Regions from separate parts of the Homo sapiens genome. Here all the other regions are linked to region 5. The links come from fine-mapping of genetic effects on gene expression. A gene starts in region 5. Each other region holds a variant in brackets. All regions are shown on one strand. Distances are from middle to middle.

Region 1 (5,104 bases), 530 kb before region 5:
ATTGCCTACAAAAAAAGGCACAAAGCAGGTTGCAGGAATAGCACAGTTTTCTCATTACAGTGTTTGTGGTTAGCTTTTCATTTCTGAGATGATTACCTAAAGGATCTTTATTGAAATCTGTAGATGACTGGTTTAGTTACAACAAGTGAGAAGCCTTACGATCTGACTTTAAATGGTAATTATTAGAAAAATAGGATTTAAAAATCTTGACTTGTATTGCTAAATGAACTGAGAACATCTATAATAATAACTAACATTTTAAAGTTATGACTATGTGCCAGGCTGTGTTCTGGGTATTATATTTGTATTAACTCATTTATTCTTCACCACAACTTTCAGAGATAGATATTATAATTAATCCCATTTTACAGATGACAAAATTGAGGCACAAAAAGTTTAATTAAGTTGCCAAATGTCACCAAGTAAATAATAAAGCCAGAGTTCAAACCCAAGCAGCCTAAATTCTAATCCTTCTAATCCTAATTAAGGCCTTCTGGCATAATTTTTTATGCTAAATATAGATTTAAACTTACATTTAGATTTTTCTAGTGATTTTGTAAAGCAGATCATATATGGTCCACTAGTTCAGCATTTTTCCAAACTTGTTGACCATCCATCTATTGTTAAAAGTATACTTTGCATTCATATTATAACAAAATAATATTTACTCTTACTGTACACAATACACTCTATTTTTTAAATTCGATTTCACTTTTTAAAAGTTGGTCACAACTCGCTAAAAGAAAGAAAGAAAGAAAAAAAAAAAGAAAGAGAGAGAGGCCGGGTGTGGTGGCTCACGCCGGTAATTCTAGCACTTTGGGAGGCCGAGGTGGGCAGATCACGAGGTCATGAATCACGAGTCATGAGATCGAGACCATCTTGGCCAACATGGTGAAACCCTGTCTCTACTAAAAATACAAAAATTAGCTGGGCATGCTGGTGCGTGCCTGTAGTCCCAGCTATTCAGGAGGCTGAGGCAGGAGAATCACTTGAACCTGGGAGGCAGAGGTTGCAGTGAGCTGAGATTGCACCACTGCACTCCAGCCTGGGCGGCAGAGCGAGACTCCGTCAAAAAGAAAAAAAAAAGAAAGAGAAGGAAGGAAGGAAAGAAGGAAGGAAGGAAGGGAAAGAAAAAGAAAGAAAGAAAGAAACTCATACCTGTAATCCCAGCACTTTGGGAGGCCGAGGCAGGCAGACCATGAGGTCAGGAGTTCGAGCAAGTCTGATCAACATGGTGAAACCCCATCTCTACTAAAAATACAAAAATTAGCCAGGTGTGGTGGTGGGCGCCTGTAATCCAGTACTCTAGAGGCTGAGGCAGGAGAAATGCTTGAACCTGGGAGGTGGAGATTGCAGTGAGCCAAGATTGCGCCACTACACTCCAGCCTGGGTGAGAGTGAGACTCCATCTCAATTAAAAAAAAAAAAACAAAACCAAAGGAACAACAACGAAAAACTATTCTGGGCAGGCATGGTAGCTCACGCCTGTAATCCCAACATTTTGGGAGGATGAGGTGGGCAGATCACTTGAGGTCAAGAGTTTGAGACCAGCCTGGCCAACATGGTGAAACCCCATCTCTACTAAAAAAAAAATACAAAAAAAATTAGCTGGATGTGGTGCCACACACCTGTGATCCCAGCTACTTGGGAGGCTGAGGTGGGAGAATCGCTTGAACCCGGGAGGCGGCAGTTGCCGTGAGCCGAAATCGTGCCACTGCACTCCAGCCTGGGCAACAGTGAGACTCTGTCTCAAAACAAAAAAAAAGAAAAGAAAAAAAAGAAAGAAAACTAAAGAAATCCGAATAAAGTATGGACTTCAGTTAATAATAATATATCAATGTTGGCTCATTATTTGGGGAAAATATATCATACTAATGTAAGATACTAATAACAGGTTAAACTGGATATATGGAATTTCTATGTATCTTTGCAATTTTTCTGTAAATCAAAAACTATTCTACAACAAAGAAATTTATTTTAAAAAACTATTTTCTACTAAAAAGAATCAGGTCTTTAAAAAAAAAAACTCAGAGCTTCTAGAAGATAATGAATCAGGGGTTTTTGGAGAAATGGCTAATTCCTGGTCTGAAGCATAAAATGTGCACAATGTGCCTGGTACATCTTGTTATGCCAGAAAGCAAAGAAGTTATCCAAAAAATTAATGGGATTGTCAAAAGGCTACAGGAGCCAACATGAAGCTATTATTGGCCCCAAACAAGACACTATACGCATTGAAAAGAACCATTACTGCAATTGAAAGTGACACACTGATCATATTTTTCAGATCATGAATTCATAATGAGATTTTTAAAGACAGAAAACAAAAAACATTCATTTGTCACTATATTCTGAAAATTGGCAATTTAAAGGGAAGAAATTAAGCTTTATCTTCTCTTTTCCATATTAACTATGTTTCAGGCAACCAAATAGCACTTCTTTACAAAATCATTTTAGCTAATAAATGTAGAAAAAAGTACAGAATTCGAAAATTGCCACTTCGCACCCCTTAATAGCAAATAATTGACTCAGGTAAAGGTCATCAAAGGATGATACCATTACAAGCAAGTTGAGGCATTTTACAATGAAGGCACCAGTCCGTCACACCTTGAATCTGCTAATGAGTCTCGGCATCTCTAACAGCTGGAGAACCGGAAACTGTGTGCCTCCTCGTGTGATGCAGTGTGAAGCGCACGGCA[C/G]GGCCTGTGAGATAGACCCTTGAATCCGGATCTGATGAAGGCTTCGAGCTACCTTCTTACAGGTAATATGGAGAATAGAGGGGCAAGTTAAATAAACCACCAAGAAGCAAATGAGCAAATTCCGAATGTGGGCCATTTTAAAGAGAACTGTGTCAGCCTGTTCTTGTATTGCTATAAAGAAACCCCCGAGGCTGGGTAATTTATAAAGAAAAGGGGTTTAATTGCCTCACAGTTCTGCAGGCTTTATGGGAAGCATGGTGCTGACTTTTGCTCGGCTTCTGGGGAGGCCTGAGAAAGCTTACAGTCATGGTGGCAGGCAAAGGGGGAGCCCCCAATACATGGCGAAAGCAGGAACAAGAGGGCAGGGAGGTGCCACACACCTTTAAACAACCAGATCTCCTCAAGAGAACTCACTACTGTGAAGACAGCACCAAGCCACCCGGGATCTGTCCCCATAATCCAAACACCTCCCACCAAGCCCCACCTCTGGCACTGGGAATTACGATTCAACATGAGATTTGTTTTTGTTTTTTTCTGTTGTTGTTTTTTTTTGAGACAGAGTCTTACTGTGTCGCCCAGGCTGGAGTGCAGTGGCACAATCTCAGCTCACTGTAACCTCGGCCTCTCGGATTCAAGCAATCCTCCTGCCTCAGCCTCCTGAGTAGCTGGGACTACAGGCGTGTGCCACCGCGCCTGGCTAACTTTTGTATTTTTAGTAGAGATGGGGTTTCACCATGCTGGCCAGGCTGGTCTTGAACTCCTGACCTTGTGATCCGCCCACCTCAGCCTCCCAAAGTGCTGGGATTATAGGCATGAGCCACCACGCCCGGCCCTAGATTTGATTTTTGTTTTTAATTTTTAAATTATTACTTATCATTATTATTTTTATTTATTTATTTATTTTGAGACGGAGTTTTGCTCTTGTTGCTCAGGCTGGAGTGCAGTGGCACACTGTCTGGCTCACTGCAATCTCTGCCTCCTGGGTTCAAGCGATTCTCCTGCCTCAGCCTCCCAAATAGCTGGGACTACAGGAATGTGCCACCACACCTGGCTAATTTTGTATTTTTAGTAGAGATGGGGTTTCTCCATGTTGGTCAGGCTGGTCTCGAACTCCTGACCTCAGGTGATCCGCCCGCCTCGGTCTCCCAAAGTGCTGGGATTACAGGCATGAGCCACTGTGCCCGGCCTATTTTTATAATTATTTGAGACAGGGTCTCACTCACTCTGTTGCCCAGGCTGGAGTGTAGTGGCAAGATCTTGGCCCACTGCAACCTCCGCTTCCTAGGTTTAAGCAATTCTCCTGCCTCAGCCTCCTGGGTAGCTGATTACAGATGTGCATCACCACACCTGGCTAATTTTTGTATTTTTAGTAGAGACGAGGTTTCACCATGTTGGTCAGGCTGGTCTCGAACTCCTGATCTCAAGTGACCCACCTGCCTCAGCCTCCCAAAGTGTTAGGATTACAGGCGTGAGCCACCATGCACGGCTATTATTATTATTTTTTAACTTATTATTTTAAGTTCAGGAGTTTGTGTGCAGGATGCCCAGGTTTGTTACATAGGTAAACATGTGTCATGGGGGTTTGTTGTACAGATTAGTTCATCACCCAGGTATTAAGCCTAGTATCCATTAGTTATTTTTCATGATCCTCTCTCTCCTCCCACCCTCCACCCTCCAGTAGGCCCCAGTGTGTATTGTTCCCCTCTATGTGATCATGTGTTCTCATCTTTTAGCTCCCACTTATAAGTGAGAACACAGAATGAGATTTGGGCGGGGACAAATATCCAAACTATATCAACAACTGACCCAGTTTATTCAACAGGACAATGGCATGGGGATTTAAAAAAAATGGAAGAGGAATGGCTTCAGATTAAAAGACAAGAAGCCGGGCTTGACGGCTCACGCCTGTAATCCCAGCACTTTGGGAGGCCAAGGTGGGCAAATCACTTGAGGTCAGGAGTTTGAGACCAGCCTGGGCAACATGGTGAAACCTAGTCTCTACTAAAAATACAAAAATTAGCTGGGCCGTGGTGGGGCCCACCTATAGTCCCAGCTGCTCGGGAGGCTGAGGCAGGAGAATAGCTTGAACCCGGGAGGCAGAAGTTGCAGTGAGCCAAGATCACGGCATTGCACTCCAGCCTGGGTGACAGAGTGAGATTCTTTTTGAAAATAAATAAATAAATAAAATAAAATAAAAGAGACATAACCAAAATAATGTGTTCTCCTCATTTGGATACTAATTCAAACAAACCAATTACAAAATAATTTATTTTGAGGTAATCAGGGAAATTTGAATATGGACCAAGAAATTGTTAATTTATTAGGTATGACAATTACATTGAGGCTATGTAAGAAAATGTCCATATTTGTAAGAGATAGGTACTCAAGTATGTAGGGTGAAATGACATG
Region 2 (5,104 bases), 380 kb before region 5:
TAAATTCCCATGGGTGGGATTACTGGGTCAAAGGGTATGAACATTTTTTATAGCTCTTGTCAATATTGCTCTTAAATTGTGGTGCCCAGAACTAAATGCAATTCTGAGACGTGTTCAGACAGAACGGGGTACTGTGGGGCTGTTACGTTCTCAAGGTCTGAACAATATATCATCCTTTAAATCCAGCAGCCTAAAAATTTACTAGCTTTTTTTGGTTGCTATGTAAGTGTGACTCATTGAGTTTATAGTCAACTGAGGCCCTTAGATCTTTTCCTAGGCACTGTGTCTTAGAGCTATGTTTGCATCTACTCTAGGACCCAGGAGGCTTTTGAGGACTCACTGACTTTAGTACTCTATGTCTTAGTTTTCTTTTCTCTTGAACAGTGGGGTGGTCCTAACAAGCCTGGAGACGTGTGGTTTGTTGTAGTCTTAGCTAGGAACTGCAGATGGCGCTACAAGGCTGTCATGGTAAAATATGTCCCTCGGCTGTCCCCTTCACTTAAAAAAAAATGTGGTAGTGGCACCTCCATAGCAGGTTCATTACCAGAGTTCAGTCCTCTCCTTTTGCTGAGAAGGAGCAAGCAACTGTGAAGTTGGATTTGGGGTGTTATTCAAAGCAAGCTCCAACTGAAGCATGCTTTTCAGTTGTCATTTAATCTCCTAGGGGAATCTAGAGCTGTCTATTTCATGTTAGAACTTTGAACGCACATCTCATGCCAGTGCTTTGGCTTTTGAAGTTCCCACCCTGAGAAGGTGATTTAAAATGTTTTTCTTTTGCTTCATGTTCCCTGCAGTATTTCTGTTAGTCGCCTCAAGGGATTAAAAGTTGTTCAACTGTTTTGTTTTGTTTTGTTTTGTTTTTGCTAAGATGAGTTTTGAGCAATAAAAGTAAAAAATTTATGTAGGGTTCCAGCTAAAGATACTTCATTTCAATAATTTGTTCTCTCTTTTCTTTCTTATTCTTCTTTTTCCCCACCTCTCATTCACCCTTTCCATAGTCCATCTGGTTATTTGCAAACTATTATGACTCTAAGCAAGGATCTTGGACTTTCTGGGTTTAAACGTTACTGACAAGTTTCAACAGAACAAAGCAGTAAAACAGTGCCCTGTATGGGAAACTTGGAAGGGAATCTTTTTTTTTTTTTTTTGAGACGGAGTTTCGCTCTTGTTGCCCAGGCTGGAGTGCAATGGCACCATGTCAGCTCACCACAATCTCCACCTCCCGGGTTCAAGCGATTCTCCTGCCTCAGCCTCCTGAGTAGCTGGGATTACAGGCATGTACCACCACACCCAGCTAATTTTGTATTTTTAGTAGAGACGGGGGTTTCTCCATTTTGGTCAGGCTGGTCTCGAACTCCCAACCTCAGGTGATCTGCTCGCCTTGCCCTCCCAAAGTGTTGGGATTACAGGCCACCACTCCCAGCCCAGAAGGGAATCTTTTAACCCATTCTGTGCCAGACCTCAGTCCCAATTCTGGGTTGAGAAATGTTGTGGGGAACATCTGCTGGGCAGTGACTGAGTCAGCATGTGAGCCTGGCTTTGCAAGCAACACCTAAAAGGGCATTTTTCCTAGAATCAATGGCTCAGGCACATTTCAGGTGAATTAGTACCAGAAAAGGAACGGGAGCTGGGTGTGATGATGGGCGGAGGCGGGGGGATCACTTGAGCCCGGGAGTTTGAGGCTACAGTGAGTTATGATTCTGCCACTGTACTCCAACCTAGGCAACAGAGCAAGCCCCTGCCTCAAATAAATAAATAAGAAATTTATTAATCTGTCTCAAGAGTGGGGAAAAAAAAGGCCAGGCATAGTGGCTGATGCCTATAATCCTAGCACTTTTGAGAGGCTAAGGCAGGAGGATCACTTGAACCCAGTGGGGAAGATTGCTTGAGTTTGAGACCGGCCTGGGCAACATGGGGAGACCCCATCTCTATAAAAAAAAAAAAATTAGCCAGGCCTGGTGGCTCACACCTGTAGTCCAAGCCACTGGGAAGGCTGCAATGGGAGGACCAGTTGAGCCTGGGAGCTGGAGGCTGCAGTGAGCAATGATCCCATCACTGCACTCCAACCTGGGCAACAGAGTGAGAACCCTGTCTCTTAAAAAAAAAAAAAGGAATGGGGCTTGGCGCCGGTGACTAACGCCTGTAATCCCAGCACTTTGGGAGGCCAAGGCAGGTGGATCACGAGGTCAAGAGATTGAGACCATCCTGGCCAACATGTGAAACCCCGTCTCTACTAAAACTTCAAAAAAATTAGCTGGGCATGGTGGCGCACCTGTAGTCCCAGCTACTTGGGAGGCTGAGGCAGGAGAATCGCTTGAACCCGGGAGGTGGAGGTTGCCGTGAGCTGAGATCGCGCCACTGCACTCCAGCCTGGGTGACAGTGCGAGACTCTGTCTCAAAAAAAAAAGAAAAGAATGGGAAGGGGTTGTGGGACATAAAACGTCTTTGGTTCAGGTGTTTCCCAGTCACAGATCTGAGGGCCACTGAGGCTTGTTTTACTCCCCCACCCCTCCTTCCATATCCTTACCCACTTTAGACGTGGTTTCTCTTGCTTTTTCCTCCCTTTCCCTCCCATGAACCACAGGAGAGAGTGTACGTTTAATATTCAGTAAATTTGATATTCAGTGCCTGCAAACTTACTTCGTCTTAGCAGTTGACTTTTCTTGCACAGCCAAGATGACTGATCATTTCAGACCCATCTCCCTTCAGGCTCTAATTCTTCTCCATCAATGTGTTTGTTTTGATATTTCTGCCTTTGGTTGATGTTCTTCTTCTTTCCTATAATTATTTTTCCTCTCTGCTAAAT[CT/C]TTTTTTTTTTTTTTTTTTGAGATGGAGTTTCGCTCTTGCCCAGGCTGGAGTGCAGTGGTGTGATCTTGGCTCATTGCAACCTCCGCCTCCTGGGTTCAAGTGATTCTTGTGCCTCAGCCTCACGAGTAGCTGGGATTATAGGCGCCCGCCACCACGCCAGGCTAATATATTTGTATTTTTTGTAGAGACAGGATTTCATCATATTGGCCAGGCTGGTCTCGAACTCCTGACCTCAGGTGAGCCACCGGCCTCAGCCTCCCAAAGTGCTGGGATTACAGGCATTAACCACCATGCCTAGCCTTGCTAATACAAATCTTTACACTTCTTTTATGACCTAGCTTAAGGTTTATCCCTAAATGATGCCTTTGCTGATTAATTCCACCTCTAGTAATCTTTGCCCTTTGAATTCCTTCTGTATTCCCATCTAGTTTGTACTGTTCTATCAATAAGTTTCTTGCATGTTGCCATATAAATTGTTCTCTGTCTCATGTTTGCAAGTCTTCTCTTCTTAACTATACCAAAGCTGCTTGAGGGCAAGTGACTGTGTCTTCTCCTAATGTAAATAGCAGGACATTTATTAAATGTGCAACCTAGGTAAATTATTGAAAAATTTTGAGCTTCAGTTTCCTCATTTGTTACATGAGGACAATGATGCCTGCACCACACAATGTTCAGACAATCAAATGAGACAATGTGTACAGAGTGCTTTATGAAGTATAAAACATTTGACAGAAGTGAAGCATACTATTTTTTTAAAGTGGTGACAGAATCTATAAATGAAAGATAATTTAAAAACTTAATAAAAGAACTTAGAGTACAGCAATATTAGTTACTATCTTACACATAGGACAAATTCACTTAATATCAAAGTCAAGTCTTAATGAACCTGCAAGGCTCACATTGAACTGAATTTTTCAGATCTGAGTTTTGGGTCCAGCATTGCCAATAATTTTGTGATGTAACACTTCAACCTTTGATAGTTTAAGGCCTTTCCCAGCTTTAAATATCTGATACACAAGTGAAAATTTGGGTATGTTAGCCTTGTTTTTGGGCCTCAGTTTTGTTATCTGTAAAATGGGAAATCTGACCTAATTAAACCATTTTAATTGAACTTTATACAATGGATGTTCAAAGACACATTAATTCTGCAAAAAAGTCTTGGGGGTGGGGATGGGAGTGGGAAGAGCTTCCTTGGGGAAAGCTGCACACTACATAGCCTGCTCGCTTCAATATGAACAAAGCATGGTATCATATTAAATATTCTGGGAAGTAAATACACCAGTTTAACTTGATTTTAACCTGTGCTTCCCAAACTTAATTGGACATGGAATAGTTTTCTCAGATAACATCTATTTAGTATCCCATGAAACGAATTTTCTGAGGCACACTTTGGACTGCTAACATGAATATTCTTAGGTACTAGGGTTAGTATAGGCAAAAGGAAAAGTACAATCTTATGAGCTGTTCTCTACTGGTTTTTGTGCCTGTTGTCACTTGCAGCTTCAGTCAATGGAAACTTTAAAACATTATGTTTCTTAATTACAGTCATTGGTTATCAAGTCTCCAAGATAATAAGTTAAATTTTTGTGCCTCTCAGGCTCTAGTTGGCCTCTTTTTCTTCCTAATAAAAACATGGAATCTGGCAATCAATTATTTAAGATACAAAATATCAAGTCAAGGATCCATTTGAAAACATATCAAATTAGGTCAGGTTAATACCTGCAGAATATATCTGCCAAGGTGAAGCTTATGTCATGATTTCTCTCTAATTCTAGTTCTGGCACTTGATCATTAAGTAACATGGGATAAATTAATTTCGTAAGGCTGAACAGAGGCTAATGGATCTCATTTGAAAATGATCTTTTTCTTTTTTAACCCTTAACATCTATGCTAAACATTTCAGAAATTTGGTTATTTTTGTGTTTTCTTCAGCGTAGGTCACAAATATTATATTTTGCATTTATTGCAGCATTTATTTTCCTCCAAAATAATTTATACATGCACTTTGAACAATTTGCAATTATTTCAAGGCAGGTGACGATAAATGTTTTATTGTGAAGTAAAACATACACAGTATGCCGGGCGCGGTGGCTCATGCCTGTAATCCCAGCACTTTGGGAGGCTGAGACAGGTGGATCACCTGAGGTCAGGAGTTCGAGACCAGCCTGACCAACATGGAGAAACCCTGTCTCTACCGAAAATACAAAATTAGCCGGGCGGGGTGGCACATGCCTGTAATCCTAGCTGCTCAGGAGGCTGAGGCAGGAGAATCGCTCGAACCCAGGAGGTGGAGGTT
Region 3 (5,104 bases), 22 kb before region 5:
GCTACGATTTGATCTTTTCTGCAACTTGGTTTAGGCAAAATGTCTTAGCTATGATTCCAGAAGCACAATCCATAAAAGAGCAATTGATATATTATACTCTATCAGAATTAAAAATTAATGCTCTTTGAAAACTACTGTTAGGAGAACTAAAAACAAATCACAAGCTAGGACTGGGAGGAAATATTGCAAATCACCTATCTGACAAAGGATTTGTATCCAGAGTATATAATGAACTCTCAACACCTGGCTGGGCGCAATGGCTTACGCCTGTAATCCCACCACTTTGGGAGGCTAAGGCAGGTGAATCACTTGAGGTCAGGAGTTCGAGACTAGCCTGGCCAACATGATGAAACCCCGTCTCTACTAAAAAATTCAAAAATTAGCTGGGAGTGGTGGTGCGTGCCTGTAATCCCAACTACTCAGGAGACTGAGGCAGGAGAATCACTTGAACCTGGGAAGTGGAGGTTGCAGTGAGCCGAGATTGCACCAATGCACTCCAACCTAGGTGACAGAGTGAGACTCCATCTCAAAAAAAAAAGAAAAAGAAAACAAACACCCAACTCAATAGCAACAGGTGTTAAGCAGCCTCTGCAAAAAAAAGAAAAGAAAAAGAAAAGGAAAAACAAACAGCTCAATTAAAAATAAGTTAAAAAAAAAAAAAACAACGGCCAGGCATAGTGGCTCATGCCTATAATCTTGACACTTTGGGAGGCCAAGGCTGGAGAATTGCTTGAGTTGCTTGAGTTGCTTAAGTCCAGGAGTTGAGGACCAGCCTGGGCAACAGTGGGATCCCATCTCTACAAAAAAATTAAAAATAAAGTTAGCCGGGTCCATGGCACACACCTGTAGTCCCAGCTACTTGGGAGGCTGAAGTGGGAGAATCACTTGAGACCAGAAGTTCAAGACTGCAGGGAGCCATGATTGCACCACTTCACTCTAGCCTGGGCAACAAAGTGAGACCCAGTCTCAAAAAATGATAGCGATTTTTCAAAAATTAAGAATAAAATAAAGGCCGGGTGTGGTGGCTCACGCCTGTAATCCCAGCACTTTGGGAGACCGAGGTGGGCGGATCACGAGGTCAGGAGATCGAGACCATCCTGGCTAACACGGTGAAACCCTGTCTCTAATAAAAATACAAAAAATTAGCCAAGCGTGGTAGTGGGCTCCTGTAGTCCCAGCTACTTGGGAGGCTGAGGCAAGACAATGGTGTGAACCTGGGAGGCGGAGCTTGCAGTGAGCCGAGACTGAGCCACTGCACTCCAGCCTGGGCGACAGAGCGAGACTCTGTCTCAAAAAAAAAAAAGAAGAAGAAGAAGAAGAAAATAAAATAAATTTTAAAAATATAGGGCCAGGCACAGTGGCTCACGTCTGTAATCCCAGCACTCTGGGAGGATGGGAGGCTGAGGCGGGCAGATTGCTTGAGCCCAAGAGTTTGAGACCATCCTGGGCAACATGGCAATACTTGGTCTCTACAAAAAGTATAACAAATTAACCAGTAGAACATATCTATAGTCCCAGCTACTTGGGAGGGTGAGGTAGGAGGATCACTTGAGCTTGGGAGGTCAAGCCTGCAGTGAGCTGTCATCACACTACGGCACTCTAGCCTGGGCAACAGAGTGAGATTCTGTCTCAAAAAAGATGTGCGTGTGTGTGTGTGTGTGTGTGAGAGAGAGAGATGGTTTGGATTTCAGTGTGTTTCATTTCTGTTAGCTGCTTTTTCTCATAACCATTGGCCAGAACAAGATCAGTGCATTTGAAATGAAAAGGAGGGATCAGAAGGAGGGTTATAAAAGTAGACAAGGAAAGGTGGGAGATATTGGCAGGGGGCAATGGTTCACACATGTAATCCCAACACTTTGCGGGGCCAAGGCTGGAGGATCACTTGAGTCCAGAAGTTCAAGAACAGCCTGGGCAACATAGCAAGACCCTTTCTCTACAAAAGAAATTAGCCAGGTACAGTGGCATGCACCTGTAGTCCCAGGTACTCAGGAGGCTGACATGGGAGGATCGCTTGAGCCCAGGAGGTCAGGTCTGCAGTGAGCCATGATTGTGCCACTGCACTCCAGCCTGGTGGCAGAGCGAGAGAGAGAGAGAGAGAGAGAAAGAAGGGAGGGAGGGAAGGAAGGAGAGAGAAAGAGAGAAAGAGAAAGAAGAGAGAGAGAAAGAAGGGAGGGAAGGAAGGAGTGAGAAAGAGAGAGAGAAAGAAAGAGAAAGAAAGGAGAGAGAGAAAGAAGGGAGGGAAAGAAGGAGTGAGAGAAAGAGAGAGAAAGAAAGAGAAAGAAAGAAAAAGAAAGGGGAGGGAGGGAAGGAAGGAAAGAGAGAGAGAGAAAGAAAAAGAAGGGAAAGAAAGAAAGGAAGAGGCCAAGCACAGTGGGTCATGCCTATAATCCCAGCACTTTGGGAGGCTGAGGTGGGCAGATCACCTGAAGTCAGGAGTTCAAGAGCAGCCTAGCCAACATGGTGAAACCCTGTCTCTACTAAAAAAAAAAAAAAATTAGCCAGGCATGGTGGTGCACGCCTGTAGTCCCAGCTACTTGGGAGGCTGAGGCAGGAGAATTGCTTTAACCCGGGAGACGGAGGTTGCTCTGAGCCGAGATCATGCCACTGCACTCCAGCCTGGGCGACAGAGCGAGACTCCGTCTCAAAAA[AC/A]AAAAACAAAAAAAAAAAAAATTTAGACGAGGACCTCGAGGTCATTCCCAAATTGCTTCCACTGGTTCTCCTCTCCATCCTTGCCCTGGGCTGAGGGATTTAATCTGCTTTTTATCTCTCACTCTGCCACACCACCTCCTAACTTTGGGAAAGCAGATCTGTGGCTATTTTCCTACCTTCCTCCCCTCTACCTTCTTACTCCCCCCACAGCCTTTAAAGTCAAGTCCAACTGCCATTTTCCTTTAAAGGTTTTATTTATTTGTTAAAAACCACAAAACTTTGCAAAGTTATGCTTACCAATACATGCCAATTGTGCCACAAGAGGCAGCATAGCATAATGATTAAGAGCATGGGCTCCAGAACAGTCACCAGAGCTCAAATTCAAGCTCTGTGACCTTGGACAAACTGAATGAGCCTTTTCGTCATCTGTAATGTAGTCATTGTTCCTACTTCCCAGGGTGATTGCAAAGATTAAATGAGTTAATACATTTAAAACATCTTGAACACCATCTAGCATCTCATAACCAGAAAACACTGTGAAGAAAACCCTTAGAAATAGAGCTGAGGAAGACCTTAAAGAGAGGGTTCTCACGCATGTATAACTGATAACAAAAAAGATTCTACAAAAGCCACAGTTTTGCACAAAGGCCACCACAACCTTTCACAAAAAAAATACTGCTGCAAAGACATCTGCCCAGCAATTGCTTGTCCAACCTCAGACTGGTGTCGGCCTTGTTATTGATCTTTGTAGCCAAGGATAATTATTTCAAAATAATTATGTAATCCTCATTTTTTCCTTTGAAAACCTTTGTCTTCCTTTACCTTCCTGAATATGCATATAGGTTACTATGGCACATGTATTCTCATTGCAATGCTCTATTCCCAAATAAATATCATTTTCTTTTGGGAAGCCTCTCCTGTTTGTTATTTAGGTTGACATATGCATTTAAATGACTCCTGTGCCTTTTCATGGCTTGATGGCTCATTTCTTTATGGCACTGAATAGTATTTCATTGTCTGAGTGTACCACAATTTATCCATTCATCTACTGAAGGACATCTTGGTTGCTTCCAAGTTTTGGTAATTATGAATAAAGCTCCTGGAAACATCCATGTGCAGATGTTTATATGGACATAAGTTTTCAACTCCTTTGGATAAATACCAAGGAGCATGATTGCTGGATTGTACAGTAAGAGGACGTTTAATTTTCTTTTTTACAATAATTTTAACTTTTATTTTAGATTCAGAGGGTACATGTGCAGGTTTGTTACATGAGTATATTGCATGATGCTAAGGTTTGGGTTACAATTGATCCCATCACCCAGGTAGTGAGCATAGTACCTGTATTAGTCTGTTTTCACACTGCTGATAAAGACATATCCAAGACTGGGCAATTCATGAAAGAGGTTTAATGGACTTACAGTTCCACGTGGCTGGGGAAGCCTCACAATCATGGCGGAAGGTAAGGAGGAACAAGTCACATCTTACATGGATGGCAGCAGGCAAAGAGACAGCTTGTGCACGGAAACTCCCCCTTATAATACCATCAGATCCAATGATACTTATTCACTATCAGGAGAACAGCACAGGAAAGACCTGCCCCCATGACTCAACTACCTCCCACCAGGTTCCTTCCACATGGGAATTGTGGGAATTACAATTCAAGATGAGATTTGGGTGGGACCATATCAGTACCCCAATAGTTTTTCAACCCTTGCCCCTTCCCTCCCACCAACCATATCAGTACCCAATAGTTTTCAACCCTTGCCCCTTCCCTCCCACCCCCTCTAGTAGTCCCCAGTGTCTATTGTTGCCATCTTTATGTCCACGAGTACCCAATATTTAGTTCACACTTATGAGAATATGCAGTATTTGGTTTTCTGTTCCTGTGTTAGTTCACTTAGGATAATGGCCTCCACTTGCATCTATGTTGCTGCAAAGGACATGATTTTGTTCTTTTTTATGGCTGTGGTATACTTAGTTTTCTAAGAAATTGCGGAACTCTCTTCCAAAGTATCTGTACTATTTTGCATTCCCACCAGCAATGGATGAGAGTTTCCATTGCTCCACATGTTTACCAGCATTTGGTGTTGTGAATGTTCTGAATTTGGGCCATTCTAAGAGGTGCACAGTAGTATTTAATTGTACTTTTAATTAGTATATCCCTGATGAGATATAATGTGGAATACCTTTTTTATAAATTAATTTTTTTTTGAGACGGAGTCTCGCTGTGTCGCCAGGCTGGAGTGCAGTGGTGCATTCTCGGCTCACTGCAACCTCCGCCTCCTGGGTTCAAGCGATTCTCCTGCCTCAGCCTCCCAAGTAGCTGGGACTATAGGCACCCGCCACCACGCCCAGCTAATTTTTTGTATTTTTAGTAGAGACATGGTTTCACCATGATAAAGCCGGGCACGGTGGCTCATGCCTGTAATCCCAGCACTTTGGGAGGCTGAGG
Region 4 (5,100 bases), 23 kb after region 5:
TGCTCACTCAAGAGTTTTAGCTTGAATGTCAAATGTCAAAAAATTAATTGGGTGATTTTTCTCCATTTCTAGGATAAGAAGAAAGAGAAGAAATGAAGTGACCATCCAGCCTTTCCCAATTAGACTTCCTCTCCTTCCACCCCTCATTTCCTTTTTGCACACATTACAGGTGGTGTGTTCTGTGATAATGAAAAGCATCAGAAAAGCTTTTGTACTTTGTGGTTTCCTCTATTTTGAATTTTTTGATCAAAAAACTGATTAGCAGAATATAGTTTGGAGTTTGGCTTCATCTTCCTGGGGTTCCCCTCACTCCCTTTTTTGTCAACCCCATCTGTAGCCTCTTCCTCTACTCAGGCAGTCGACCCGCCACGATGAGAAGTGGGACCAGCAGAGGGCGCCAACTTCAGGAGTCCGCTTTCCCACCAGGCTTCATTCACCCAGTGGACCTGAACTGTTTGGTAGAGCCACCCGGCCCTTCCTTCCTCATTGTTGTTTGGTATGCGCACAGTTCCTGTGGGACTGGGCCGTGAGTTTTCCATTGGAAAGAAGTTCAGTGGTCCCATTGTTAACTCAGCCTCAAATCTCAACTGTCAGGCCCTACAAAGAAAATGGAGAGCCTCTTCTGGTGGATGCTTTGCTCCCTCTGAGCTGCCCATGCTGGTCTGGCAAACACACCTTTCTGCTTTGCCTTCACAAAAGTAATGTGTTCCCTTTCCCACCCCTTGCCTGACCCTCAGGGAGTCAGCCTGCTTCCATCCATGGGTGGGAAGACTTCAGCACAAAGGAAAGACTAATTCTTGTCAGGCATTTTTGAAAAGGCTGATTATGTGTATCAAGGTACAGCATCGTAGGGTTCCCCTAAACTTGCCCTGTTTTTGTTTTTTTAGTTTGTTATCCCCTTACTGAGCGGCCTCTACTAGGTGGCTGTGATTAAATGTCCCAAGCAAGGATAGGGAAGGGGAATGGTTGAGCCTCTGGAGATCATTGTAACCAATCCTGCCAGACCTGTTTGGGGCAGTGGGGAGCAAACCTAGATAAGGACCTGTTTGGGGCAGCAGGGAGCAAAATCTCCTTTAACAACCAAGCAGTTCCTCATTCACATCAACAGAGCGAGGCTGTGATAACTTAGGAGGCAGCAATCCTAATAGTCCTTCAGTGCATTTTAGTCTGTCTCCAACTGGACACCAGTAGGTAGTGTCAAGCCAGAGATTCGGGGCAGTAGATAAATGTTCATTTTACTGATGCACTTTAGTTTTTGGTCTGTTACCTGTTTTCCAGAAATTTGTGGCCTTTTAGGCGGGAGTTAGGCGACCAAACCAGTGAGAGCCCCAATCCCTGCAGTTTTGTGGCTTCAAGTGTGGGTGGACAGTCCTAATGGGGATCTCCAGCTCCTTCCTGTGGGCTGCCACAGACAGCTACCCCCAGAAGGGTCAATGTTGGGAGTGGTTGTGGCTCTGAGCTGCTCTACAGAGCTTCAGTGTGAGAGGATCGAGCCATTGAAAGCTCATTACCAGTAGGACATAATTTTTGGCTCTCCCTATTCACAACCAGTGCACAGTTTGACACAGTGGCCTCAGGTTCACAGTGCACCATGTCACTGTGCTATCCTACGAAATCATTTGTTTCTAAGTTGTGTTTATTCCTGGAGTGACATGCCACCCCGAATGGCTCACTTTCACTGAGGATGCTGTCCTCTGATTTAGCTGCTGCCTCCAGCCTCTGGCTTGAGAACTTACTAAAGGCACTTCCTTCCTGTTAAACCCCTGTTAACTCTCCATAAATTTGGTGATTCTCTGCTAGGCCTAAGATTTTGAGTTAACATCTCTTGAAGCCAAACTCCACCTTCTGTGCTTTTTGCTTGGGATAATGGAGTTTTTCTTTAGAAACAGTGCCAAGAATGACAAGATATTAAAAAAAAAAAAGAAAGAAA[A/G]AAAAAAAAACACCTACTTTTAAAGAAAATACCTAACAGATTTTTAATATAGTTATCTCTACCACTTTCTTTTCTAGTTTCTTGATTTTCAGCTCAGGCTGCATTCTAACTCATACTGTGAAGACAAAGGTGTTTTTGATTCAGAAATATATGAAATCTGCATAGTCTTAATTTGTAAAAAATAAAGAAAATTCCTTAACCTTTCCTGGTGTTTGTGTTAAATTCAAGGGTACAGCTGGTCATGGAGCTTGTGATACTGCCAGGGTTTGCTACTGGGGGCTGGGAGTGGGACACGATTGAGTTCGTGTCATAAGTATGAACAGAGACAAAGACCTCCCACTCTGTAGCCCCAGCATGCCACAAATGTTGAGAATTTTCTCTGTCAAATATGTAAGCCAGTTTTTTTTCCAGTCCTCTCCACCCCCTGCCACCTTTGCTATATGTTGTTTGTGGTGATATGTGCAGTTGGTTCAGATGTGCAGCCAAGCTTTGGAGTTTGAGGATGCATAATGGAAAAAAGGCAAATGATACCCACTCATTCTGCAAGTATTTTTGTTCACCCACTGCTGCCCGGCTGTATTCTAAGTGCATTAGTTAATAAAGATGTAAAAGTTGGCCAGGCATGGTGGCTTATGCCTGTAATCCCAGCACTTTGGGAGGCCAAGGTGGGCAGATCTCGAGGTCAGGAGTTCAAGACCAGTCTGGCCAACATGGTGAAACCCCATCTCTACTAAATACACCAAAAAAAAAAAAAAAAAAAAAAAATTAGGCAAAGTGGCAGGCACTTGTAATCCCAGCTACTTGGGAGGCTGAGGCAGGAGAATTACTTGAACCTGAGAGGTGAAGGTTGCAGTGAGCTGAGATGCACCACTGCATTCCAGCCCGGGTGACAGAGAAAAAAAGTCGGCCAGGCGTGGTGGCTCACGCATGTAATCCCAGCACTTTGGGAGGTCGAGGCAGGCGGATCACCTGAGGTCAGGAGTTTTGAGACCAGCCTGGCTAATAAGGTGAAACCCCGTCTCAACTAAAAATAACAAAAAATAGCCCGGCATGGTGGTGGGCGCCTGCAGTGCCAACTACTCGGGAGGCTGAGGCAGGAGAATCGCTTGTACCCGGGAGGCAGAGGTTGCAGTGAGCCGAGAGCGCACCACTGCACTACAGCCTAGGCGACAGAGACTCCCATCTCAAAAAAATAATAAAAGTCCTTGTCATAGTTCAGATATGAGATTATCAATCGGAACTTGCATTACAATCAGGTTGCTCAATTCTGTGTTTGTGTTTTTGTTTTGATTTTTGGAGACAGGGTCATGGTCTTGCCCTGTCACCCAGGCTGTAGTGCAGTGATGCGATCATGGCTCACAGCAACCTCAGTCACCTGAGCTCAAGTGATCCACCTCAGCCTCCCGAGTAGCTGGGACCACAGGAACATGCCACTGCACCCCGCTGATTTAATTTTTGTAGAGGTGGGATCTCACCATGTTGCTCAGGTTATGTTGAACTCGTGTTCCTCAAACGATCCACCTTAGCCTCCCAAAGTGCTGGGATTATAGGCTTAAGCCACCATGCCGAGCCTAGTAGCTCAATTTTACCATGCTTGTTCTCCGCTTGTCATATTCATTGTAGACCCAGGCCTTCCTGTTAGAATTTGACCATTATTCTGACTGGTTCATCTAGGTTACTCCCAGTTGACCTGTTCGGACTCCACATGTGCCCGTGCCAACTAAGGATAGCCATTTTCCTTAAGCTTGGGAAATATTCCTTAAGCATCTTTTCTCTCTTGCTGACTTTGAGAAAAGACTGGTCCTAAAGACTCTTTAAAGCCCCCATTTTATCTGCTAGGGGAGAAGTACAAGGTGCAACACCTTTTGAGTGTTTACAAGGTCAGGCACTGTACAAAGTGCCTTACATGGATTGCTTAACATCCCCAGTAGTTTAAGAAGATGGTGTATTTACTACGTACGGTCAGTTACTTCCAGGGCTGGCAGATGTGTGCCCAGAAAGAATCTAGGCACACTATCTCCAGAGCCCCTATCCTTTACTGTTAACCTATGTAAGCAGTGTTAAGGTTAGTCCTCCTGGGCTGGAGTCATCCTTTCCATCCTGACCTACATCCTGGCTATGGCTCTGGCCAAGGGTGGAAAGGGAAATTGTGAAGGGGTTTGAGCAAAATCTCCCCACCCCAAATCTTTGTAACCAAAGAAACGTAGAAGAGTGAGCGGCCTTTTTAGTCTTTCTTCCCCCAGCCAGCCCACCAATTACCAATTAAATGGAAGAGGATAACAAACAGCAGCTCTTTCCATGTGTAGGAGACCTGCAGGCCAAAACTAGACCAAGGAAGACCCTAGTGGGCGGCAGAAGTGGAAGGTCCTCTGGGTTGAAAGAAGAAACAGTATTTTTTTTTTTTTTTTGGAGATGGAGTCTCACTCTGGCCCAGGCTGGAGTGCAATGGCGTGATCTTGGCTAACAGCAACCTCCACCTCCTGGGTTCAAGCAATTCTCCTGCCTCAGCCTCTCCAGTAGCTGAGATTACAGGTGCATGCCACCATGCCCAGCTAATTTTTCATATTTTTAGTAGAAAGGGGGTTTCCCCATGTTGCTCAGGCTGGTCTCGAACTCCTGACCTCAAGTGATCTGCCCTTAAGTGATCTGCCCACTTCGGCCTCTCAAAGTGCTGGATTACTTACAGGCATGAGCCACCACGCCCAGCCAAGAAACAATATGTTCTTTCTAAGCATGGTGAGCAGATGAGGGGATCTGTCTTGTTTAAGCTGGGGATAAAGATGTAGAAGACAGTTCCTGCCTTGGAGTCCTTCACCACTGAGTAGTGCTGGAGAGCCACATGTGAACATTACATGTGAATAGGAGTTAAGCATAGTGGGCCATGAGACAACAGCAGGAGACACAGCCTGGTCTGGTCGGTCAGAGAAAGTGCTTTGTAGATGACACCTCAGCTAAGTCTAAATCTCAAAGTTTGAGTCAAAGTGAGGCAAGTGAAGAGATTAAGAAAGGCAGTGGGAGTGGATGTTTCTGATCAAGGGATCAGCACGAGGAAAGACAGGAGTACGCTCCAGCATGGGGAGTGCAAGGAAGGAGCTGCAAAAACAGGTTTTGCTAACTAGGAAAGTTGGAGGAAACTAGTAGGAAATGGAGGGGGTAAGTCAACAGTTACT
Region 5 (5,104 bases):
AAAACAAAAGAAAAAGGGGTGCCCAAACAAGTCACCTTGAAGTTTGATGCCTGTGCTGTCATTAATAGCAATAAGTTAGGAAGGGGATGTGGCTCTTTTAGTTGGGAAAAAGGCTATATGACCGAAAATAAGTACATTTGTCATGAATGAGGACTGTGTGAAAATGAATGTGGATACTGGTCTTGTGTCATTTAGGCCACTTGGATAAAAAATGAAAAGGATCCAGTCCACCTTCAGAAAGGAAAAAATGGCTCTTCCTGTACTAAGGGACAATGTAACCCCTTAGAGCTAGTAATAACCAATCCCCTTGATCCTCGCTGGAAAAAAAGGGGAGCGTGTGACCTTAGGAATCGACAGGGCTGGACTGGATCGTCGAGTAAATATCTTAGTTCGAGGAGAAGTCTGTGGAAAATTTAACCTTACCAATTGCTGCCTGCACATAGATGATCAGAGGCAAGTAGTCGAAGATATAGTTAAAGACATGACGAAACTGGCACATGTGCCTGTACAAGTGTGACACGGATTTGACCCTGAAGCTATGTTTAAAAATGGTTCCCAGTGCTAGGAGGATTTAAAACTCTTATAATAAAAATTATAGTAGTAATAGCCTGCTTACTGATCCCTTATTTACTATCTGTACTCATTCAAATGGTAAAAGGTTTCATCACTACTCTAGTTCACCAGAATGCTTCAGCACAAGTGTACTACATAAATCACTATCGATCTGTCATGCAGGAAGACATAGGTAGTGAAGATGAAGGTGAGAACTCCCACTAATAAAATGAGTGAGAGTCTCAAAGTGGGGGAATAAGGGAGGAGACCACCCCTCATATTGTCTTATGCCCAATTTCTGCCTCCAAAGAAAGAAGTAGTAAAAACTAAAAGGCAGAAATGAAATCCACAAGCAGACAGCCAGGCACCACACCCTGGGCCTCGTAGTTAAAGATCGACCCCTGACCTAATCGGTTATGTTATCTATAGATTACAGACATTGTATAGAAAAGCACTGTGAAAATCCCTGTCCTGTTCTGATCTAATTACCGGTGCATGCTTGCTCAATCGATCACTACCCTCTCAAGCGGATCCCTTTAGAGTTGTGAGGCCTTAAAAGGGACAGGAATTGCTCACTCAGGGAGCTCAGCTCTTGAGACAGGAGTCTTGGCCGATGCTCCTGGCGGAATAAACCGCTTCCTGCTTTAACTCGGTGTCTGAGGGGTTTTGTCTGCGGCTTGTCCTGCTACACTACAGCAAAAATTAGGTTGTATTATAGAAAATTAACTTTTTTGGTTTTTTTGAGACGGGGTCTCGCTCTGTCTCCCAGGCTGGAGTGCAGTGGCACCATCTCGGCTCACTGCAACCTTCACCTCCAGGGTCAAGCAATTCTCCTGCCTCAGCCTCCCGAGTAGTTGGGATTACAGGCACACGCCACCACGCCCAGCTAATTTTTTAAATTTTTAATAGAGATGGGGTTTTACCATGTTAGCCAGGCTGGTCTCAAACTCCTGGCCTCAAGTGATCTGCCCACCTCAGCCTCCCAAAGTGCTGGGATTACAGACGTAAGCCACCACGCCCAGCCGAAAATTAACTTCTATTAATTGCATACCTGGGTTTGCCTACTGAGAATCATACCCTGGATATTTGTATTCTTTACTGAAAAGAACTGTTCTATCTTTCCAGAAAGTGGTTTCCTAAATTCTGGTTTTCCTCCTGGAATCCTGCTATTTCCTTCTCGCATACTCTAGAGAAATCGAAGTGTTTTCAAAGGTGCTCTGAAGCTTACGCTCCACTAGTTTCACAGTAAATCGCCCCTTGCGAGGGCGCTTTTTTTTTTTTTTTAATGTGTTCTCTGAATCGCTTTCCCCCTTTAACACTGCATGACAAGACTAAAGCCAGAATCCCAAGACTGCAGCGCTACCCCTTCACAAGCCGTCGGGCTGTCCCGGGCGGGGCCGGCCCATTTTCACTTTCTCCACTAGAGGCAGCAGCGCACCGTGACCCTGGCTTACTACGGTAAGAAAGCGGAGACCTTTTGCTTCGAGGCGGTTGGTGGCCAGTAGTCTTGATCGACAAGCTCAGGCCTCTGAACTAAGCAGCCGCTGTTTATGCACGTACAGCCAATGGAAAGGCAGGAGTGCGGCCAACGGCCAATGAGGACTGGTCTTAAGCGGACCACAGGGCGGGGTTTCCCTCGAGAGGCGAACGCCGGGTAAAAGATCGGGAGCGGAAGTGGGCGAGTCAGAGCACATCCGGTGTTAGAAGCGCTGGTAGGCCTTGGAGAGGCGGGTTAGGAAGGTACGTCTGAACCTAGTACTGGGCGAACTGGGAGTGAGAAATGGAAAGGGAGTTAGCAGTTACTGTCTGAGCAAGAGTGGCAGTAGCTTCCTTCTGCGGACAGATGGCACCCTGAAGGAACGAGGCCCTGCTCGGAGACCAGACTCGGGAAAACAGGGTGTGGAGGGAAGCTAGGGAACTAGTGCTGCGCGTGCGCAACAGTGCTGAAGCGGGGGTGGGGCGGAGGCGAGTCTGCGGGGGTTTTGGGGGGTGTCGAGGCCTCTATTCTGCCCCAGAGCGCTGGCGAAGGCCCCTTCTCAGCCCGCCTTTTCCTTTCTCCCGCTCCTTCTCCTCTACTAAGTGTAGACGCAGGGCCCCTTGGCCTAGCTTCGATCGTTCGAATTCAGAGCACGTCCTTCCGAGGTGAAGGAACGCGAAACTCCACCCATCCGATTGCTGTTCGGCTGCGGGCGGGTCCTTTGGTCGGGCTGACCCTGGGTGAGCGGCCCGGAGCCAAGACTCGAGGTAGGGCCTGGCGGGCGGGTGATGTCACACTCCTCTGTGACACGCGAGGCTCCTCAGTTACTTAGCCAACGGCAGAGGCGGGAAGTGAGAGGAGTCTGGGGCTGGGGCTGCCTTCCAGGCCCACGGGGCGGCCCCGCTCTTTTCGGATTGGTTACCTTTGGGCAGGTGAGGTGGCTTTGCTTTGCTTGGTCTTGAGGTTTTGTGGGCGTCTTTCTAAGTCTGCTCAGCAAGGGCGTCGTTGGGCAGTTTTTATCTTGGGCCTACTTGCTGGACCTGTGGTAACAAGTAGGCTTTGGTATCTTTGTATATTTACTGAGTGTAGAATTACTACCCGGTGCCAGCCCGGGCTGCTTGGGGTCATCAGCCTTTCATTGACCACCCCCACAACAAAAATCACTATGAACTTGAGACTGTGTTCTAGCAACTTGTGAATGTGTAACCCAGTAGAAGGGCTGACTGTGCTTGAAACAGACAAGGATTTTAAGGTCAAAGGTAAATAAATGGCAAATGGACTTTTCTAGTTACTTATTGATATTTATTTACAGTTTATCTTTTGTATGTGTGGTTTAAGAATTGAATTCTGGAAAGATACCGGAATTGCATAAACACATTTCTTATGACCTGCGTATACACACTTTTTTCTGTAATTATTGTATTTACACTCTTTGGTGTTTTCTTATTCTTTGTGTCTAATATTTTTGTTCTGGCCTAAAGAATATGTTGACATTTAGATTCTCTGCCGCCACTTTCCTCCAGTAGGGACAGAATAGTTGAACCCTTGAGAAATACAATCTGTACTTTTGATCCATAGTTTGCTTCTTCCGTTATTTATCTGGTTGTGGAAACATGGTTTAGTACCTTCCTCCTCTTTTTTTTTTTTTTTTTTTTTGAGGCAGAGTCTCACTGTCGCCCAGGCTAGAGTGCAGTGGCGCAGTCATGGCTCACTTGAACCTTGACCTCTCCTGGCTTAGGTGATCCACCCCAGCCTCCTGAGTAGCTAGGACCACAGGTGGACGTCACCAGCTCCAGCTAATTTTTGTATTTTTTGTGGAGATGGGGTATCACCATGTTGCCCAGGCTTACCAACTCCAGAACTCAAGCGATTTATTTATTTATTATTATTATTATGTTTTTTTTTTGAGACAGTCTCACTCCCTTACCCAAGCTGGAGTGCAGTGGTGCAATCTCGGCTCACTGCAACCTCCGCCTCCCTGGTGCATTCAATTCTCATGCCTCAGCCTCCTAAGCAGCTGAGATGACAGGCGCGCACCACCATGCCCAGCTAATTTTTGTATTTTTAGTAGAGACGGGCTTTTGCCAAGTTGTCCAGCCTGGTCTCGAACTCCACACCTCAAGCGATTCGCCCGCCTTGACCTCCCAAATTGCTAGGATTACAGGTGTAATCCTTTCCTAAAGAAAAAGAGTCATCTCTCCTGAAGAATAAGAAAAGGTAAAATTAATCTAGATACTTAGCATTTTCAAGTTATTTTCCCTGATTATAGATATAGTTCGCGCTCTTTATACAAATGCTGAAAATGCAGAAAAATGTCATAGGAATCAATGTATGTTTTGGGAGGGTTTTTTTGTTTTAAAGATTTGTTTTCACCTATGGCTGAAACTTTTGAAAGCTTATATAAATGAAAGCTTATTTTTCTACTGTAGGATGGAATAGTAAAAAGAGCACTAGACTATAGTGGTCAGAAGACCCCAAATCTGGTTCTGGCTCTGCTATTTAACTTTCTAATGTTGGTCAAATCAATACTAATGTTTGTTTTAGTACTTTACGTTGATTTCACACAGATTTTCTTATTGGCATTCAGTAGAGCAGGTATTGATCATCATCGTTATCTTACAGATGAGGAAGCTGAAATAACCTTAGGTAAAATGATTTTTCCTAGGTTATATAGTAGAAAGTGGCAGCACTTGTGACACCAAATCCTGTCCTCTTGCCACTATTACATTGCCTTTTTGAACTTAAAAAAGATGTATAAAATGGGCCTAATCTTTCCCTTTCCTTGTGGGTTGATGTGTGAGGATTGAAGGTGATACATATATAAAAGCACCTTAAAAGTTATAAATTTTATATAAATATAGTCAGGAGTATTAGTATAGAAGGTACTACTGCTGGCCTGACGAGTTTCATTTTATTTCGTAAACTGCCCAAGGGTATTAATTTTCTCTAGAGAAACCATTGAATATTCTGATGCTCTAACTTCTGATTTTTTTTCCTTTACTACTTTGACCTGGTTGTAGAATCTGGTAGAAATGTCTTCTACCACTCTGTTTTGTTCCCCCAGAGTTTCTAACC

The links. PIP is the estimated chance that this variant, and not a neighbour inherited with it, causes the effect.
Region 1: its variant is the best candidate, but not a certain one, in a credible set for the expression of TMBIM6 in whole blood (INTERVAL, PIP 0.68).
Region 2: its variant is the best candidate, but not a certain one, in a credible set for the expression of TMBIM6 in whole blood (INTERVAL, PIP 0.59).
Region 3: its variant is the best candidate, but not a certain one, in a credible set for the expression of TMBIM6 in whole blood (INTERVAL, PIP 0.53).
Region 4: its variant is the best candidate, but not a certain one, in a credible set for the expression of TMBIM6 in whole blood (TOPMed, PIP 0.62).

Annotation. Positions count from the first base shown.
Region 1 is chr12:49,206,193-49,211,296 of GRCh38, forward strand. No RefSeq gene overlaps it. Among named protein-coding and RNA genes, the nearest start is that of TUBA1A, 20 kb to the left of the region's middle. The variant C/G (reference allele first, on the strand shown) is at 2,696.
Region 2 is chr12:49,358,391-49,363,494 of GRCh38, forward strand. No RefSeq gene overlaps it. Among named protein-coding and RNA genes, the nearest start is that of SPATS2, 6.5 kb to the right of the region's middle. The variant CT/C (reference allele first, on the strand shown) is at 2,807.
Region 3 is chr12:49,717,413-49,722,516 of GRCh38, forward strand. The region is part of intron 2 of LOC124902929 (a long non-coding RNA gene); the gene reads left to right. Among named protein-coding and RNA genes, the nearest start is that of FMNL3, 13 kb to the left of the region's middle. The variant AC/A (reference allele first, on the strand shown) is at 2,649.
Region 4 is chr12:49,762,801-49,767,900 of GRCh38, forward strand. It overlaps TMBIM6 (transmembrane BAX inhibitor motif containing 6), which reads left to right. Exons shown (of 10, transcript NM_003217.3): 10 at 73-2,134. The coding sequence ends at 96. Among named protein-coding and RNA genes, the nearest start is that of TMBIM6, 24 kb to the left of the region's middle. RefSeq lists a silencer at 3,572-3,772. The variant A/G (reference allele first, on the strand shown) is at 1,931.
Region 5 is chr12:49,739,320-49,744,423 of GRCh38, forward strand. It overlaps TMBIM6 (transmembrane BAX inhibitor motif containing 6), which reads left to right and starts at 2,238. Exons shown (of 10, transcript NM_003217.3): 1 at 2,238-2,292. RefSeq lists enhancers at 1,805-1,934, 1,863-2,554, 2,175-2,494.